Homo sapiens: one gene and its partners. The protein of the gene in region 1 interacts with the protein of each later gene in a biochemical or structural test. Each region holds a gene or a part of one and is shown on either strand. Other genes may lie near its edges.

Evidence for each region. The genes of interacting proteins can lie anywhere in the genome.
Region 2: the proteins of PTPN3 (region 1) and NRXN3 interact in a test that uses a peptide from one of them, tested with the Homo sapiens proteins (one large-scale study listed by IntAct).
Region 3: the proteins of PTPN3 (region 1) and ITK interact in a test that uses a peptide from one of them, tested with the Homo sapiens proteins (one large-scale study listed by IntAct).
Region 4: the proteins of PTPN3 (region 1) and DENND5A interact in a test that uses a peptide from one of them, tested with the Homo sapiens proteins (one large-scale study listed by IntAct).

Annotation. Positions count from the first base shown.
Region 1 is NC_000009.12:109,403,685-109,408,745, reverse strand, and holds part of PTPN3 (tyrosine-protein phosphatase non-receptor type 3), read left to right. Parts: intron 1-368; coding exon 369-425; intron 426-2,127; coding exon 2,128-2,284; intron 2,285-4,137; coding exon 4,138-4,298; intron 4,299-5,061.
Region 2 is NC_000014.9:78,967,873-78,971,372, forward strand, and holds part of NRXN3 (neurexin 3), read left to right. Parts: intron 1-300; coding exon 301-474; intron 475-3,500. UniProt on the Homo sapiens protein: Neuronal cell surface protein that may be involved in cell recognition and cell adhesion. May mediate intracellular signaling. Functions as part of a trans-synaptic complex by binding to cerebellins and postsynaptic GRID1.
Region 3 is NC_000005.10:157,246,840-157,250,339, forward strand, and holds part of ITK (tyrosine-protein kinase ITK/TSK), read left to right. Parts: intron 1-2,010; coding exon 2,011-2,168; intron 2,169-3,500. UniProt on the Homo sapiens protein: Tyrosine kinase that plays an essential role in regulation of the adaptive immune response. Regulates the development, function and differentiation of conventional T-cells and nonconventional NKT-cells.
Region 4 is NC_000011.10:9,262,551-9,266,846, reverse strand, and holds the start of DENND5A (DENN domain-containing protein 5A), read left to right. Parts: upstream 1-1,496; 5' UTR 1,497-1,777; coding exon 1,778-1,886; intron 1,887-4,296.

The DNA of each region.
Region 1 (5,061 bases):
GCAGGTTTGTTCTAGCAGCACTCGAAGACATGCTGTGGAGTCCCTCTCTGGGGGCATCTGCGTTTTTAAGGAGGAGCTTCTCTCTGAGTGTATCTGTTAGTTCATGGACTGTGGGGATGGCAGAGGGAGGCTTCTGAACAGAGTCCTGGTCAGCCCGCTGGATCCAGAGGGGTCAGGAATTTGTTCCATATTTCTGAAATGACGTGTGATTCGAATCAGTCATAGTGAAGTTTGAAGCCTCCCTGTACCAAAGACTCACATTTATTGGTACCTCCATGTTGTTGATGCTGTGAGCTACTCGTTTTTTTGTTTGTTTGTTTGTTTAACTTAAAAAACTTTGTTTTGTTTTTATTTTAAAATGTTTACAGGGAGGAGTGGATCAAAAGATGCCTCTTGTGGTATCAAGGATAAACCCAGAGTCACCTGTAAGTAAATACATTCCATGTTATTCCTCGTGTTTGTTTGTTTCCCCCTAATTCTAACAGGTTTCTGTTTCTGAGTCCTGTTTCTTTTTTTGCCAGAGCAAAGAATGTGCTTAGATATACATCACCATGTTTTCTATAACCTTGCGGCTCAGTGTGGTCTTTGAAGCCATAGCACCCATGTTACCTGGGACCTCATTAGAAATGCAGCATCTCTGGCCTCAGCTTAGGCCTGCTGAACCGGAATCTGCATTTTTAACAAGAGCCTTGAGTGGTTAGTGTGCATTCAATTTTGAGAAGTCCTTTTCAAGAGAAGGAAACTTAGGCAGTCTGCTGTTCTGCTCACTCTAAGTGGGCACGTGGGCCCTGTGCCTCTTCTCACCATCTTTCCACCAGTGCCCCTTTTGTCATCTGTGTAGGCCTCCTAAGAAGAGCATTTGCTTTGTTTTTCTTTCAAATTTATTTTATTGTTTTTAGGCCAGGCATAGTGGCTCACACCTGTAATCCCAGCACTTTGGGAGGCCGAGGAGGGTGAATCACTTGAGGCCAGGAGTTTGAGACCAACCTGCCTGGCCAACAGGGTGAAACCCATCTCTACAAAAAATACAAAAATTATCTGGGTGTGGTGGCACACAGGTGTGATCCCAGCTACTCAGGAGGCTGAGGCAGGAGAATTCCTTGAACCCAGGAGGCAGAGGTTGCAGTGAGCTGAGATCACGCCGCTGTACTCCAGCCTGAGCGACAGAGTGAGACTCTGTCTCAAAAATAAAATAAATTTATTTTATTGTTTTTAAAATAATATCAAGTAATTTTTTCGTTTAATTTTTTTATTGTGCATACTCAAGGTGTACAACATGATGTCTTGTTATACATATAGTACTGCAGTCAAACAAATTAACATGTTCATCACTTTCCATAGTTAACCTATTTTTCTTTTTTAAGAGACAGGGTCTCGCTCTTGCTCTGTCACCCAGGCTGGAATGCAGTGGTATGATCACTGCAGCCTCAAACTAGGCTCAAGCGATCCTCCTGCCTCTGCCTCCCAAGTCGCTGAGACCACAGGTGTGTCCCACCTCACCTGGCTCCATAGTTACCTTTTAATCATCTGCTTTTTTAAAGCAGTAGGAGTCACTGTGCCTCCTTACAGTGAACCACGTTGGGATTTTACTCTGAGGTAGTCCTTAAGCTCTTGTCATTTAACTTTTGTTACTGTTTACAGTTTCTGTAAATTCAGAAGGCTTTCTTTCCTGTGCTGTTCAATTCATTGCTTCTCTCCATAATGGTTTTTGCCTCTGTTGTGAAGCTTACAAAAGCTTTCACCTTTGCAAGACAGATAAATACTCACCTCTAGCTGGCAAATCATTTCCTAACAGTACATCTAGGAAACAAAAGGCTGGAAATGGTATAGTTATATTATAATAAGTGAAGGTTGACTACCACGGAGAAATGGCTTCAGCAATTTTTATATCCTTATTCTGAAATGTTTCATAACTTATATTCTGAGCAGTACTTCTTTATATCTTACAACCATCTACCATGTCCACATAGCAGTGGATGCATTATACAAATAATGACAGTACTACCCGAGGGAGAGAAGGCAAACTTGATCATGGTCCCAGGTGTCTGGGAGCAGAGCGAGTCAGCGTTCTTCCCCCAAGGACTGTGTTATGGTAACAGGAGAAACTCGCTTTTCCCCACCACCCAGGCGGACACCTGCATTCCTAAGCTGAACGAAGGGGATCAAATCGTGTTAATCAATGGCCGGGACATCTCAGAACACACGCATGACCAAGTGGTGATGTTCATCAAAGCCAGCCGGGAGTCCCACTCACGGGAGCTGGCCCTGGTGATCAGGAGGAGAGGTAATGGCCACCTGGGGGGAGGAGCCATAGGGAAGCTGTCCTAGCCAAGCTGCGCCTGCTCCAGCCCTTTATCTGCTCTTGAAAATGTTGAGTTTGTAGCCAACATTTGAAAATCAAGAATCTTCAGGTAATAACCGAATGTTTGGCTTCTCACTTGAAAAATGTGAAGATCTGCCCCCAGGAGGCCTGTCCCCATGTGGCCAGTCTTCTGGGGGGAGACAGCGCCCCTGCAGCCCCTTTATACAGGACATGAGCCCCCAGCTCCCAGTTCCTCCCAGGCCCAGCGCAGCCCACATCACGCACTCTCTAAGTGGCATGACTCTGCAGACATTTGCATTTTCAGCCCCTTCTTAAAGGATCTGGTGATATTTTATTCGTGCGTGTTTGATTTTGTCGGGGAGGCAGTGAGGAGAGCAGGGTCTGACTGTCTCGGGTGATTCCTCACTCTGCCTCTGCGGGCTGGGGGACCTTGCAGGGGTTACATAACCAGTCTGTGGTTCAGCTGGCTCAGGTGTGGAGGAGGACAGCAGTGGTCCCGACTTCACAGGGTTGCTGTGAAGATTAAATGGCACTTGGGGCCAGGCACAGTGGCTCACACCTGTAATCCCAGCACTTTGGAAGGCCAAGGTGGGTGTATCACTTGAGGTCAGGAGTTCAAGACCAGCTTGACCAACATGGTAAAACCTCATCTCTGCTAAAAATACAATAGCCAGGCATGGTGCCATGTGGGTATAGTCCCAGCTACTCAGGAGGCTGAGGCAGGAGAATCGCTTGAACCCAGGAAGTGGATGTTGCAGTGAGCTAAGACTGTGCCACTACACTCCAGCCTGGGTGACAGAGTGAGACTCCATCTCAATCATTCAATCAATCAATGGCACTTAGACTGGAAAGTACCTGCATTGCTGCCTGATGGGAGCAGAGGTTTGAAGGACAGCCTCTACTGAGCATCACACTGTTGTCTTTATAGTTGTTGTTATAAAATAATACGTCAAGTTCCTTGAACACCGTGCACAGCTGTAAAATACTGAAAGTAAATGAAGGTTGTGTCTGCAAAGCCCTGCGTCTCTGCCTGCCTCACACGTTTGGCTGACACTCCATACTGCTGTGCTCCTGCCTCGGCTCTGCTCCCACTGCAACTCTCAGTCCAGAGCCACCAGGACCAGCTCTGACCCCACCTCCTCCGTGAGGCCTTACCAGATCTCTCCGGTTCCCCACCTGTGCAAGGTTGGGAGTTGTGGGGGGGTGGTCCTAGCTTTGCTTTCACCTGTATTGAATTTAACATGAAGGGAAAACGTGCACTAAAGAGGTAAGGCTGAAGCACAGAAGAGATGCTAGGACTACGATATTTACGTGGGAGCCTCCCACATAGAAACGGCCCTGAGTTAGGGATTGAGCTCTCAGGAATGATGGTGTCACAGGAAAAGCTTGGGACCTCACCCTCATGCCTGAGGAAATGCCCATTTTAGGGAAGTAAATGAAAAAACCTGAGAAAGAAAGGGGAGTCGGGATGGGTAGAAGAATAACCCGGTCAGAAAGAGCAAGCAGAAACAATATGCTTTTTTAAATAACATTCTTTCTCTTTTCTTTACCTTTGACAAAAGCCTCTGAGTGTTAAACACCATTATTTAAAACTAACCAGGAAGATTAGTATGTCATTTTATGTAATTAACACATATTGAATCATTCACCTAGAAGTAGTATCTTTGGTGAAAATGATTACCATGTAGCTTAATCATTTAATAAGATGTTTTGAACCATCTGCATTCAGGTGTCATAGGTGTGATTTGTTTGAGGGAGACGGATAAACCTGAGTATTGCTACACAAGTCAGATGCACTGTCTTGTACGTTACAGCTGTCCGCTCATTTGCTGACTTCAAGTCTGAAGATGAACTGAACCAGCTTTTCCCCGAAGCCATTTTCCCCATGTGTCCGGAGGGTGGGGACACTTTGGAGGGATCCATGGCACAGCTAAAGAAGGGCCTCGAAAGCGGGACGGTGCTGATCCAGTTTGAGGTAAGACCCTCTGGAGGCTGAATCCCACTGCCATGTCGCCTATTGGGCTGCCCCTGCCTCTGAGCAGTGGAGGAAATGAGGCAGAGACACAAGCCCTTGTTTCCTTGGTCGAGATGATTGTGTGTTTCACAAACCAAAAGCAGTCAACTGAGTCTCTGAGGACTGACAGGGCGAGGCCTGTGCTTGTCGTGGATAACAGGGCACAGCAGGCAGCCCCCTTCTCAGGCTCGGAGCAGCAAGCAGGGATCAGGGTGGCCACCCTCGCTGAACTCTGTCTCACCCTCTTATTCTAGTAACATTTGGTAGTCATGGAGAAACATGCCAGAAACTGAGGAGGAGGGACTCTGAGTGTATTTAACTGCCAACACAAAAGCTCAAAACTCCCAGCAGTGGAAGGCAGTGGAGAGGTGGCTGTGGGTGAAGGAACCAGCTCTCTGACCACCCCCAGCCATGTGCTGGAATTTGGAGCAATTAGTGTTATCCCATGAGGGCATAGTGTCTCGCCCTCCCAAGTTGCCCAGAACCCTATAAACACAAGTAAGAAACCAAACTCAAACCCCCATCTTCCCCAGGGGAACCTGTGATTCATAGGATTCAGGCTGTTGACAAAGGTACACACAGACATTTTTTATAAAACAAAAGGGAACCAAAGGAAACTCAGCTTTTAAGCCAGTTTTACTGATCACTAACAGAATTAAAATAGAATGTGTTCATCTTCCAAATTTATTTTCTTATTTTTATTTTTTAAATATGTTGTTGTCGT
Region 2 (3,500 bases), on another chromosome or scaffold:
AAGCACATAAAAAGCACTCAATAAATGCTTGCTTTGTTGACAATATTGTTAATCTTTACTCCATCTATGATGAATAAATTTTTGAGATGGTATATATAAAATGAATGACACATAATAAATATTGGTTTCCTTTTTTTGCAGGGTAGAAACTCAGGTGCTTATCTCATTTATGCTGTCCCCCCCCCCCCCCCCCAGCTATCTTATTCCTTATCTGATGAATTATCTCAAGTGTATCAAACTAGTTGACATGGTCACCACATCCTTTACTCATTCTCTTTTGCTAATTACTTTCCTTTCCAGGTGATCTCTATATGGCTGGTCTGGCCCAAGGCATGTACAGCAACCTCCCAAAGCTCGTGGCCTCTCGAGATGGCTTTCAGGGCTGTCTAGCATCAGTGGACTTGAATGGACGCCTGCCAGACCTCATCAATGATGCTCTTCATCGGAGCGGACAGATCGAGCGTGGCTGTGAAGGTACAACCTATTTTTTTCTTGTTAAGCTACAGCCTTGTTGCAAGCACCAAGCCTCTTTGCTGCCTCTGCCACTGCCTCCTTCCTCAGTTGACCAGTCCTGTCTCATTCTCATTTGCCACGTGACATTGCATCACCATCAGTGTTCTCTTGTCACTGGTTTAGTATGTCAAGACATGTGCCACAGGCTCCAGGAATGTATGTTGGCAGATGTTTTCTGAGTATCACATACTTGCCAATAAAAATAAAATAAAATAAAAAACTTCCCTGGCATTGACATCAGGCTTCTTTCAATGTGTACCTTGGCTTCCAGAATGGCTGAAACAGCACTGGAGACTTTTATTTATACTTTAATACATGATGAGGGGAAAACCAGAGATTTTATGTAGATGTCACTAATTAATAAAATGTTTCTTATTTTGGCTGATAGTGACTGCATTATTTAATGCAAATCTAGCAGGCAATAGGAAAACGATGTCCAAATGCCATGATGATGGAAGGGAACTAACATTTACTAAGTACTTACTAATTATCAGGCATTGCTAGGCAGTTCTTTAGTGTGGTATATTGGAACATTATGGGCTTTGATATTAGAAATACCTGGATTCAGCTCCAGGTAGTAGCTCTTGTTAGCTATGTGACATTTGGAAGGTGATGTAACTTCTGTAAGCTATATCTTTCTTACCTATAAAACAGGGCAATAAAACTTACCTTGAATGTAAGGAGATCAGAAATACACATAAAATGCCTGGTATGTAGTAGGTACTCGATAAATGGTAGGCTTATTGTTTACAAATATTATTTTATGTCAAACATCTAATAATACTGCATGTCTACCCATGCAGCACAACAAACCATGCTCAGCCTGTTCCTGTAGATGATCCACTGTCTCTTGAGATACTAAATGAATTTTACAGGTCTTCCTGAATCCAACAATTCTTTGCAGTGTAAACAATCTAGTTTTAACCAGCAGATGGCAGAAGTGAACACATTCAGCCTTCCCTAGTAGTCTTGGGTTGGCTGAAAACGTGACTGTTACCTAACTTGAAAGGCAAAGAAGTTGCCTGACCAAGGATCTATGTAATTATTTCCTTTTTTTCTTTTTGAGCCTTTTGGTTGAGCCTTATGGTCCTGTGTTTGCGCAATATATTGTGTTTCCTTGTATCAGTTGTTAATTTACCACATCAAATCTGTTCATTCCACTTCTGTGTTCAACTTCATGTATCGCTTCTGTTCTTAAACAGCTTCCATCTGGGTTAGCTCATCATCGTAAAGCACACATTTATAAAAGCTTCCTGTCAGCTTATCAGGCTGACTTGGAGTTATGGAAATTGTTTCCCTTTGCCTAAGAGTTATTTTTGTATTTTGCACTAGTAATAGGAATGTTCATTCCTATAACCCACTCCATTTTTCCTTTATCCAGAAATATTTCTTAAATTGTCTTGGCCAAATATGGTGTTTGTACTATGTAGTGTGTGTGTGTGTGTGTGTGTGTGTGTGTGTGTGTGTGTGTATAAAGGGACAGGAGGTTGGGAATCACTAAGCCCTTAAAGCAGCCACTTTGCTCCTAGAAATGAACAATTTCATTCAATCAGGGATTTTTGTCTCCTTGGCTTGCTTTTAGTTCTTTTGTGTATTAAAGGGCAATCCTGGAATAGACGTAGCATTTGGAATTAAATTGTATATAGTGTTTAGAAGATTGTAGAATGGCAGTAATTCCATTTATCCTGGAATAATTAATCATATGAAGTCAAATCACAATATAAGAGCACATATTAGAAAGCGTAAGATACTGGTCAAATGTTACAGAATTTTTATTATGCCATCAGTTCTTCAGATTTAAAAGTTAACAGGAATCATCCATTAACTCTATGTCAGTGTTTTCCAATAGATATATGTAACACATGCAATTATAAATTTCCTAGTAGCTACATTTTAAAAAGGTATAAAGTAACAGGTCAAATTTATTTTAATTTTGTATTTTATTCAATTTAACTAAATATACCCAAAATATTATTTCAGAATGTAATAGAGATAAAATTATCAATATTTTGCACTTTTTTTCACATTAAGCCTCTAAACTTGAGTTTGTATTTTATACTTGCAGCACACCTCAACCCAGGGGCTACATGCATTTAAAGTGCTCAATACACATGTCAATGGCTACTGTATTGGTAGTACAGGTATACAGAATACAAAAATTAAGGTGTAAATAAATAAAGCTATAGTATTGGATTAAAAGGAGGTCTAAGCTTTATAAAAGGGTACTAAAATGTATAATATAAAGGGAGAATGACCTCACTTAAGAGAGTTTTAAGAGAAGCAGTAAGAGCATCAGCAAAAAGAAATTACATAACGAGTTGGGGAAAATGTCCCTATCCCTATCTACAGCTCTATGTGCAGTTTGGCATTACTCATCACATGCATTACAGAGAGCTCCGACCTTCCTCTGAGTATGGTTGATTGTTCAAAGCCGGATATTGTGGCTTGATGGCTCCACCATCTGAATCTATGGTGAGTCCCATGAGCCTAATAGCACTGCACTCTATTGCCATGGAGATAATTACAACGGTTACCCACTGAGCATTATGCCTACCCCGCTGGGTGGGATGAAGTGGAGGGTGAGTGCTGAGGGAAGAAAGTCCTTGTTGATTGTACACAAATGACTTGGATAATTAGCCTAAGTGGCCAGGAAAAATGGCCCAAAATGGGTTAAGGCATAAATTACTGTCATTGGAAGTTTGTACCACTGTGAATAAGCCCTTGCAAGAGATCCCAGGAGCATTTTAGGGTTCTGTGTAAGATGGTGGGGAGGTAAAGGGAGAGCACAAAACACTGGAGACACTGCAAAAAGGCATCATTTTTATTCTGAATCTCTTGTGTAGAGCATGAGACCCCCAAGAAGGCCTTTGAGCATTAGGTAGTATGAGGACCACAGGAAACAGAACAAATTTCTTAATTTATCATTTCTTTTACATAGAACAGTAAACAAGTAGGGGATGAGGTTTTATAACTAAGAACTAAGACCA
Region 3 (3,500 bases), on another chromosome or scaffold:
CAGGCAATGAAGCTGGTAGGCCATCATAAGGAATTAGAATTTCTAAAAAGTGCAAATGGCCATGAAGGGATGAATGATGTTGGTATTGCAGGATGTGCCAAATGTTCTTGCTGGATTTGCCATGTCACCTGAAGTCATAGTTTGTGCATACTAAAGTGTGCAAAAAAATATACCAGACAACCTCTTTGATTTGGATTACAAGAATTATACTGTGGACAGAAACTACTTGAAGATTGATTTTTGCCATTCGGTATGAAGGAAGGGTTTGACAAGGGCTTACTAGTAGTAGAAACCAGGGGGGAGTTTGGCTAGGTAAATCTTTTAGGAGAAGAATGAGTGTTAAAAATCTTCTGCAGCATTTTAGTCTATCCATCTCTAGGAGCCAAGTGGTTTGTTCATTATGAGTCCTACCTATTTCTTAAAACAGTACCCTATTAACCAACCCTTGCAGCTACTTTGTTAACCAGGTTTAAGTTACAGAATGGACTTGAAAGAAATTGTACTAACAGCATTTTTGGATGACTCCCCTCTCCCCAGTGTGTATAACTAGGAAGGTTGGGGCTGATGTGCAGTCATCTCACTATGGGTGATGAAACTGATCACACTGCACCAAGCAAGCAAGGGCCCCACAATGAGACATTTGGAGCAATGGCCACTTTAGCACATTCACCTTCTGACTCTGAATGGGGTTTATTCAGCCAAAGGGTGTCAGCCTGGGAATTTCCTGGGGCATATTACCATTACAGGGTTGGGCTGAAATTAGTCCCTGTCTAGGATATATTATCTGAAGAGAGTCCAGAAATGAGGTTGATGGATGGATGCAGAATTGAGAGATCAATGGAAAAAAGTGTGAAAAAACTGGGGGTACCAGCCTAAGCAACAGAAACCTGGATGAGCTGAAAACTCCATGCCTGCATCAGCCCATTGGACTTTGTCCTACGTTTTAAGTTTCTTTGCCCTAATTAGCAGTGTGCTATTCAGAACAAGTCAACCTCTTTGTACTTTGCTCAATTTTTTTATCTATACATTTCTCATCTGTGTATTAAAGCAATCATTCTGAAACCATGTTTCAGCATCGGCACATTTTCAAAAAAATTTTCACTAAAAATTATGGTGTCTTGGGGTGATAAGCATTCTTATTTAGGGTCAGGTTCTGAATTTCCAACTCCTGAGGCACCTCTGAGTAACATCTAGAGATTCTGATCCACTGGGTTTGGGCTAGGGCCCAGGAATCTGCCATTTGAACAAGACTCTGAGATGATTTTTATTCAGGTGTTTTGGGGATCATGCTTTGGGAATGTCTACTCTAAGATTCTCTGGAACAACCTTTGAAAAGCTCTGAATTAGCTGATTTGCAAGCAGCCTTCTTGCTCTGACAACCTGTGAATATATCAGCACATGATAAAGACAAAGCTAGGTGTCACATTTCTACCAAGGGCAGAAGAGGAAAAGAAAGGGATTAAATCAGAGGTCAAAAATAGACAAGCAAAAGATGTGTTTTGCTTGGTCTACATGGCATTTTTTAAATTCAAGAAGTTCAACTCTTAATTTTTGACGTCTTTTTTAAAAAAATCAGAAAATGTGCCAATTCTGATCCCTCATTTTCATGTGCCATACTTTGGTTGGAGTCAAATCATAGCTGTCTCCTTAAGACAGAACTGTTTATCTCATTTTCCACAATCCTCCCCAATCCCAATAGTGTCACACCTCCTGCACTCCATTCATTTACATCCTGCATCTTGGCATTTGAGTCTACAACTCTTAGTTGTAGCATTTGAGTTTGGTACAACAAAGGGTCCATCTTGAAAATCCTTCTCCACTACAAAGGTTGGGAAATTTCAGTTCTTTAAAAATAGGACAGGCCTAATAAGCCTCAGGTAGACTTGATGCACTTCTGGAGGTAGCACATGAATCCTAATGCAAGGAGTCTGTAATTTCTAGAGGCAGGTTGGTTTGTTTGCTGTCTGTGGGCTTTGTCATTCACTGTGCTGTGCTCACCATTTCTTGTAGGTGTGCTGATGTGGGAAGTTTTCAGTGAAGGCAAAATCCCGTATGAAAACCGAAGCAACTCAGAGGTGGTGGAAGACATCAGTACCGGATTTCGGTTGTACAAGCCCCGGCTGGCCTCCACACACGTCTACCAGATTATGAATCACTGCTGGAAAGAGGTCAGTGGAGGAAGTGCTTCCCCATGCATTGTCGTATACAATTTGAGGACCTCCCTCCTTCCCTAGAGAAAGGAACCCTCTCAGAAGGATGAGGCAGGAGGGATAACTAATATAGATTAGCAACAACATGACTTTGAGGATCTGTTAACGGGATAGATCCCCCATCCCTAAAGGAGCTGAAGGCGACCTTAAATATTATTTGGTTTGCTACATAATGTCACAAGCTATAAGCATAGCTTCAGAGAGGAGGATGGGGTGTGGCCTATGCCAGCTTCCTTCTCGATTTTCTGAGAAGAGAAAAAAAGTCTGTAACATCATAAAACCATTAAAAGCACAGGAAGTTAGTTCTATAACTTGGGGAACAAAGTTCACTTGCACTATGAAAATATTAAAATGGCTTAATTTGAGTTCATTTTATTCATTCTGCATTTAAAATGGGGAGCCAATTCCTCTGTACCCGCCCAGGTGGCTCATTTACCCCAACCTTGGATTGCAGGCCATGGCTTGAGCCCCATCACTATGAGTCTTAGTCTTTGCTGTCTTTGCTGAGTTAGAAAATCATACATTTCAGCCAAAGTGGAAAGTTGCTGAAACAGAGAATTAATAAAAATTCTGATCATTGTACGACAACAAGGTGGAATACAAAAAATTTGGAACACTAGGATTTTGTCTCAGCTTTACCATTTATTTGCCATTAATCTTTGACAATTCTCTGAACTTCCTTTTTCTTACTGTTAAGAGAATTAAATAATGCTTGGTCTGTGAGTTCATAGAGCTTTTATAATCAGAAACAAAGAAACAATAGAGACATAAAGGAGGGCATAAAACAAATCTTATCCACTTCATAAGGATTAGCTACAATAATAATAATGATGGCTGACATTCAGTTGGCACTTTTTCCCTCTTTTAACCATCATTTATTGATTTTTTTAAATTAATAGTCTTTATTTTTTAACAAAGAGTACAGAGTTCTCATATGCCCACCTCACCTGAACAGTTTCCCTGTTCACTAACATTTGGCATGAGTGTGATACATTTGTTACAATTAGTGAACCTCTATTCATACATTAACTAAAGTTCATAGTTTACATTAAGGTTCAGTCTTTGTGCTGTAGAGTTCTGTAGGTTTTCACAAATTCATGTATCCATCATTATAGTATCAGACAGAATAGTTTTACTGCACTAAAAATCTCCTGTGCTTCACCCATTTATCCCTCTCCTCATCCCCAAACCACTGGCAACTACTGATCTTTTCACTGTCTTCATAGTTTTGCCTTTCTCAGAATGCCATATATTGGCATCATACAGCATGTAGGCTTTTCGGACTGGTTT
Region 4 (4,296 bases), on another chromosome or scaffold:
GGAGAACCTAGGAGAGAGCCTAGGCTCAGCCTTTGGGGAAGCCAGCTGCCTTCTACAGCTCTTAGTGGCAGCCTCCCAGAACAAACCGTAAGAGTACTTCCTTCTGGAACAATAATAATAATCCAGGCTGGGGGCTCATTGGCTCATGCCTGTAATCCCAGCACTTTAGGAGGCAGAGGAGGGCGGATCACCTGAGGTCAGGAGTTCGAGACCAGCCTGACCAACACGGTGAATCCCTGTCTCTACTGAATACAAAAAATTAGCCGAGTGTGGTGGTGCGCGCCTGTAATCCTAGCTACTTGGGTGGCTGAGGCAGGAGAATCACTTGAACCTGGGAGGCAGAGGTGCAGTGAGCCGAGATTACGCCATTGCACTCCAGCCTGGGCAACAAGACAGAACTCCGTCTTGAAAAAAAAAATCTGTAATATTTACTGAGTGATTTCCATGTTCCAGGCAGTATTCTCATTGTTTTACCTGTACTTGCATTTACCTTATGTAATTGTCTCAAAAACCATGACGCCAGGCACTTAGAGATTAACTTGCTCAAGGTCAAAAGTAAATGATCGTCAGGATTGAAATCCGAGCATTTTTTTCTAGAGCCCATGCTAGTGACCACTATACCTGTGTTGCCTTTCTGGCCTCTGATCTCCAGTTTCCAACAAAGACACATCTGCCTAGCTTCTATGGGAAAGGAAATCGGAGGGTCCTAGGACAAGGACCAATAGGTAAGTTTCCCTTCGCCTCCTCCCTATCCTCTTACAGGAAAACAGGTTTAGGGGTGGATCTGAGAGTTTTCACAGAGTGAAGAGGAAGAGGAGCTCCCAAATGGCAGGCGCCTCTGGAGGCTTCCAGAGAAAAAAGGAGAGAGCGTGGGAAAAGGGCAGGCTGGGAGGTGGGAGCGGCGAGGAACGGGGAGCTGACCACAAGCCCAGGATTCCAGACCAGGCTTATGTCTCTTAGACTCAGCGTAACCTTGGATAAGTCCTTGCTTCTTTCTGAGACTCAGTTTCCCCGTCTGTAAAATAAGGGTAAATATAAAACCGGCTCATCCGCCCCTGCCAAAAGAGAGGACAGGGAGAAGGCCCTGTCTGGGGTCTAGGCTGACACGCTGCAGCTAGGATTAGGTGAGCTTCCGAGCTCAGTCGTGAGACCCCATCCTCATGGCAAGGCCGCGCTAAGATCTCTGGACCTCTGCTTGCTGGGTGGGTGGTTGGGGGCAGAGCATGGGCCAAATGCCCGGCTCTGCAGGCTGCGCCCACTCTTCTCGCACCTCCTCAGCCCTCCCTAAAGGAGTCTCAATCCCGGGGGAGTGGCAGTTGCGGGCGACCAAGCAGTCACCGGCTGCGCTGCGGCGACCTCCCGGGAAGCTGCGGCCGGCGGGGTCCGAAGAGCATCACGTCATCCTTTCCCCCAGGAGCCCGCCCCCTCCCAGACGGCGCCTGCGCAGGCGCGGTAGGAGGAGGGTCACGGTGGGGGCTGTCCACGCGCTCTCCGCCCTTCTCCAGGCTCGCTCGGGCCGCGGCGCTCTCGGCTAGCTGCAGCGGCGGCGGCGCGGAGGGGAAGGCATCCAGGATGCGGTGCGGGGCGGCCCGGTGCCCCCCCGCCCCGTCACGGCAGCCGCGGCGGCCGAGGGGACCGGGCCAGGGCCGGGGGCGGCGGCCCGAGCCGCGGTAGCGGCGGCGGCGGGAGGGGCGGCCTGAGGGCGGACGGGCGGGCGCCCGGGTTGCGGGGGCTCGGTGCCGCTCCGCACTGCCCGGCCGGTCTCGGCCCCGGCGCCATGAGTGGCGGCGGCGGCGGAGGGGGCTCGGCGCCCAGTCGCTTCGCCGACTACTTTGTCATCTGCGGACTGGACACGGAGACCGGGCTGGAGCCGGACGAGCTGTCGGGTGAGTGCGCGCCGAGCCCGGGGCGCTTTCCCGCGCCCGCTGTCGTCGGGGACCCCAGAAGAAACCTTCCTTCAGCCCCGCTTTGTCCCGGGAGCCGGGCGAGTGTCGGCCGGGAGGACCAGGGCGGGCGCGGGCGAAGGGGGCTTTGGACTGGAGGGGGGAAACGGATGAGGGGCTCTGAGCCATGAGGGGTCCAAACCTACGGCCCGCTGCGCAGTGGCCACGTCTTCGGCGACCAGAAAGAGGGAGGGTTGTGTGTTCTCAGTTTGGTGTAGGTTGAGTGACTTCGTTTAAAATAAAGGAAAGCTTGTCCTCTGGCACCCATTAGGGAGGGAAGGCGTCCCACGTCCTAGTGAAAGTAAGTTCCACCCAGACTTAAAAAAAAGGAAAACAAAAACTTGGTGAGTTTATCTGGCCACTTCCCAAGAAGCTTGTGATACTAGTTCCTCAAAACCGTTATACCCCAGCCCTGGGCTGGGCCCCCTGAGTCAGATTGCAGCTCTGCGCGTCTGGATGGGATATGAAGTAATAAAGTGAACTTGGGCGGCACCAAGAAGAGTAGGAACTCCCTTAGCCTTGGAAAGGGCTTGTATCCCGGGGCCATGCCTTTTTTGAAAAGTAATTTATGTCCTTTATGAGGACAGAGGCGTTTGTGAATAAAAGGGTAGCAGCATTGTAGTTGGAGAGGCTTGGTGTGTTCTGATGCGTTTCAAGTCATATTTGAAAGGGAAAGTGATGAGGGGAGTCAAAGATGGGGCCCTGACCAGATTTGGCACTCACTGCAGAAGGCCGTGAAAATTATACAGTCCCCGTGAATTTTCCACTGCACTGTCATTGGAGTCTTTGAATTGTAACAGTTTTGAAAATAAGTTTTTGTCTGGAGTTTCCAGTTAGTGGGTTTCAAGTGGGTGGAGGTTTGTCGGGTTGTACTTTAAGGTTGTGTCATCCTGATGAGGGGGACTCCTTTTCACTTTTCTGTCACTGTAAAGTTTCTCTTTCGAAAGTGATTATCCTGTTGACTAATCTTACTCGGCTTCAACGATGACAAGACAGTTTTGTTTTTGGGCACCAGAAAAAGTCCAGTGTTTCTTTTTTTTTTTTTTTTTTTTTTTGAGACGGAGTCTCGCTCTGTCGCCCAGGCCGGACTGCGGACTGCAGTGGCGCAATCTCGGCTCACTGCAAGCTCCGCTTCCCGGGTTCACGCCATTCTCCTGCCTCAGCCTCCCGAGTAGCTGGGACTACAGGCGCCCGCCACCGCGCCCGGCTAATTTTTTGTATTTTTAGTAGAGACGGGGTTTCACCTTGTTAGCCAGGATGGTCTCGATCTCCTGACCTCATGATCCACCCGCCTCGGCCTCCCAAAGTGCTGGGATTACAGGCGTGAGCCACCGCGCCCGGCCCAGTGTTTCTTATGAAAAAAAAATTAGGCGGGGCGCGGTGGCCCACCACCCGGCGGCTCAGGGGTAATCCCAGCACTTTGGGAGGCCGAGGCGGGCGGGTCACCTGAGGTCAGGAGTTCGAGACCAATTTGGCCAACATGGTGAAACCCCCGTCTCTACTAAAAATACAAAAATTAGCCGGGCGTCGTGGCGCGTGCCTGTAATCCCAGCTACTCAGGAGGCTGAGGTAGGAGGATCGCTTTAACCCAGGAGGGGGAGGTTGCAGTGAGCTGAGATTGCGCCAGTCTGGGTGATTGCGCCACTACACTCCAGTCTGGGTGATAAAGCGAGACTCTGTCTGGGAAAAAAGAAAAAGAAGAAAAAAGCATGATAAATTCATGCTTTAACAAGGTTAGAAAAAAATGAGCTATTTCCTCAATAGCAGGTGGAGAAAATATGAAGCAGTAATATAATTAATATTAGGCTTTTTGTCGGGGTAGTTTTATGGTTTCTAATTTACTTTAAAAAAATTTTAGTTTTAGGCCGGGCGCGGTGGCTCACGCCTGTAATCCCAGCACTTTGGGAGGCTGAGGCGGGCGGATCACGAAGTCAGGAGATCGAGACCATCCGGGCTTACAGGGTGAAACCCCGTCTCTACTAAAAATACAAAAAATTAGCCGGGCGTGGTGGCGGGCGCCTGTAGTCCCAGCTACTCAGGAGGCTGAGGCAGGAGAATGGCGTGAACCCGGGAGGCGGAGCTCGCAGTGAGCCCAGATCGCGCCACTGCACTCCAGCACTCTAGCCTGGGCGACAGAGCGAGACTCCGTCCAAAAAAAAAAAATTATTTTGATGAGTACCTAATAATTGTTCAAGTTTATCTTTTAAGGTCTTCAAATTCTTATAGTACAGATGTTTTTCATCTTTTTCATATGTAGTAAGTTTGTGACTTTGATGTAATTTTTGGAATTCGGTTCAGGGTATTGGTGTTGGAAGGGACCTCAGAGGGGAAAATGAGGCCCAGGAAGGACAGT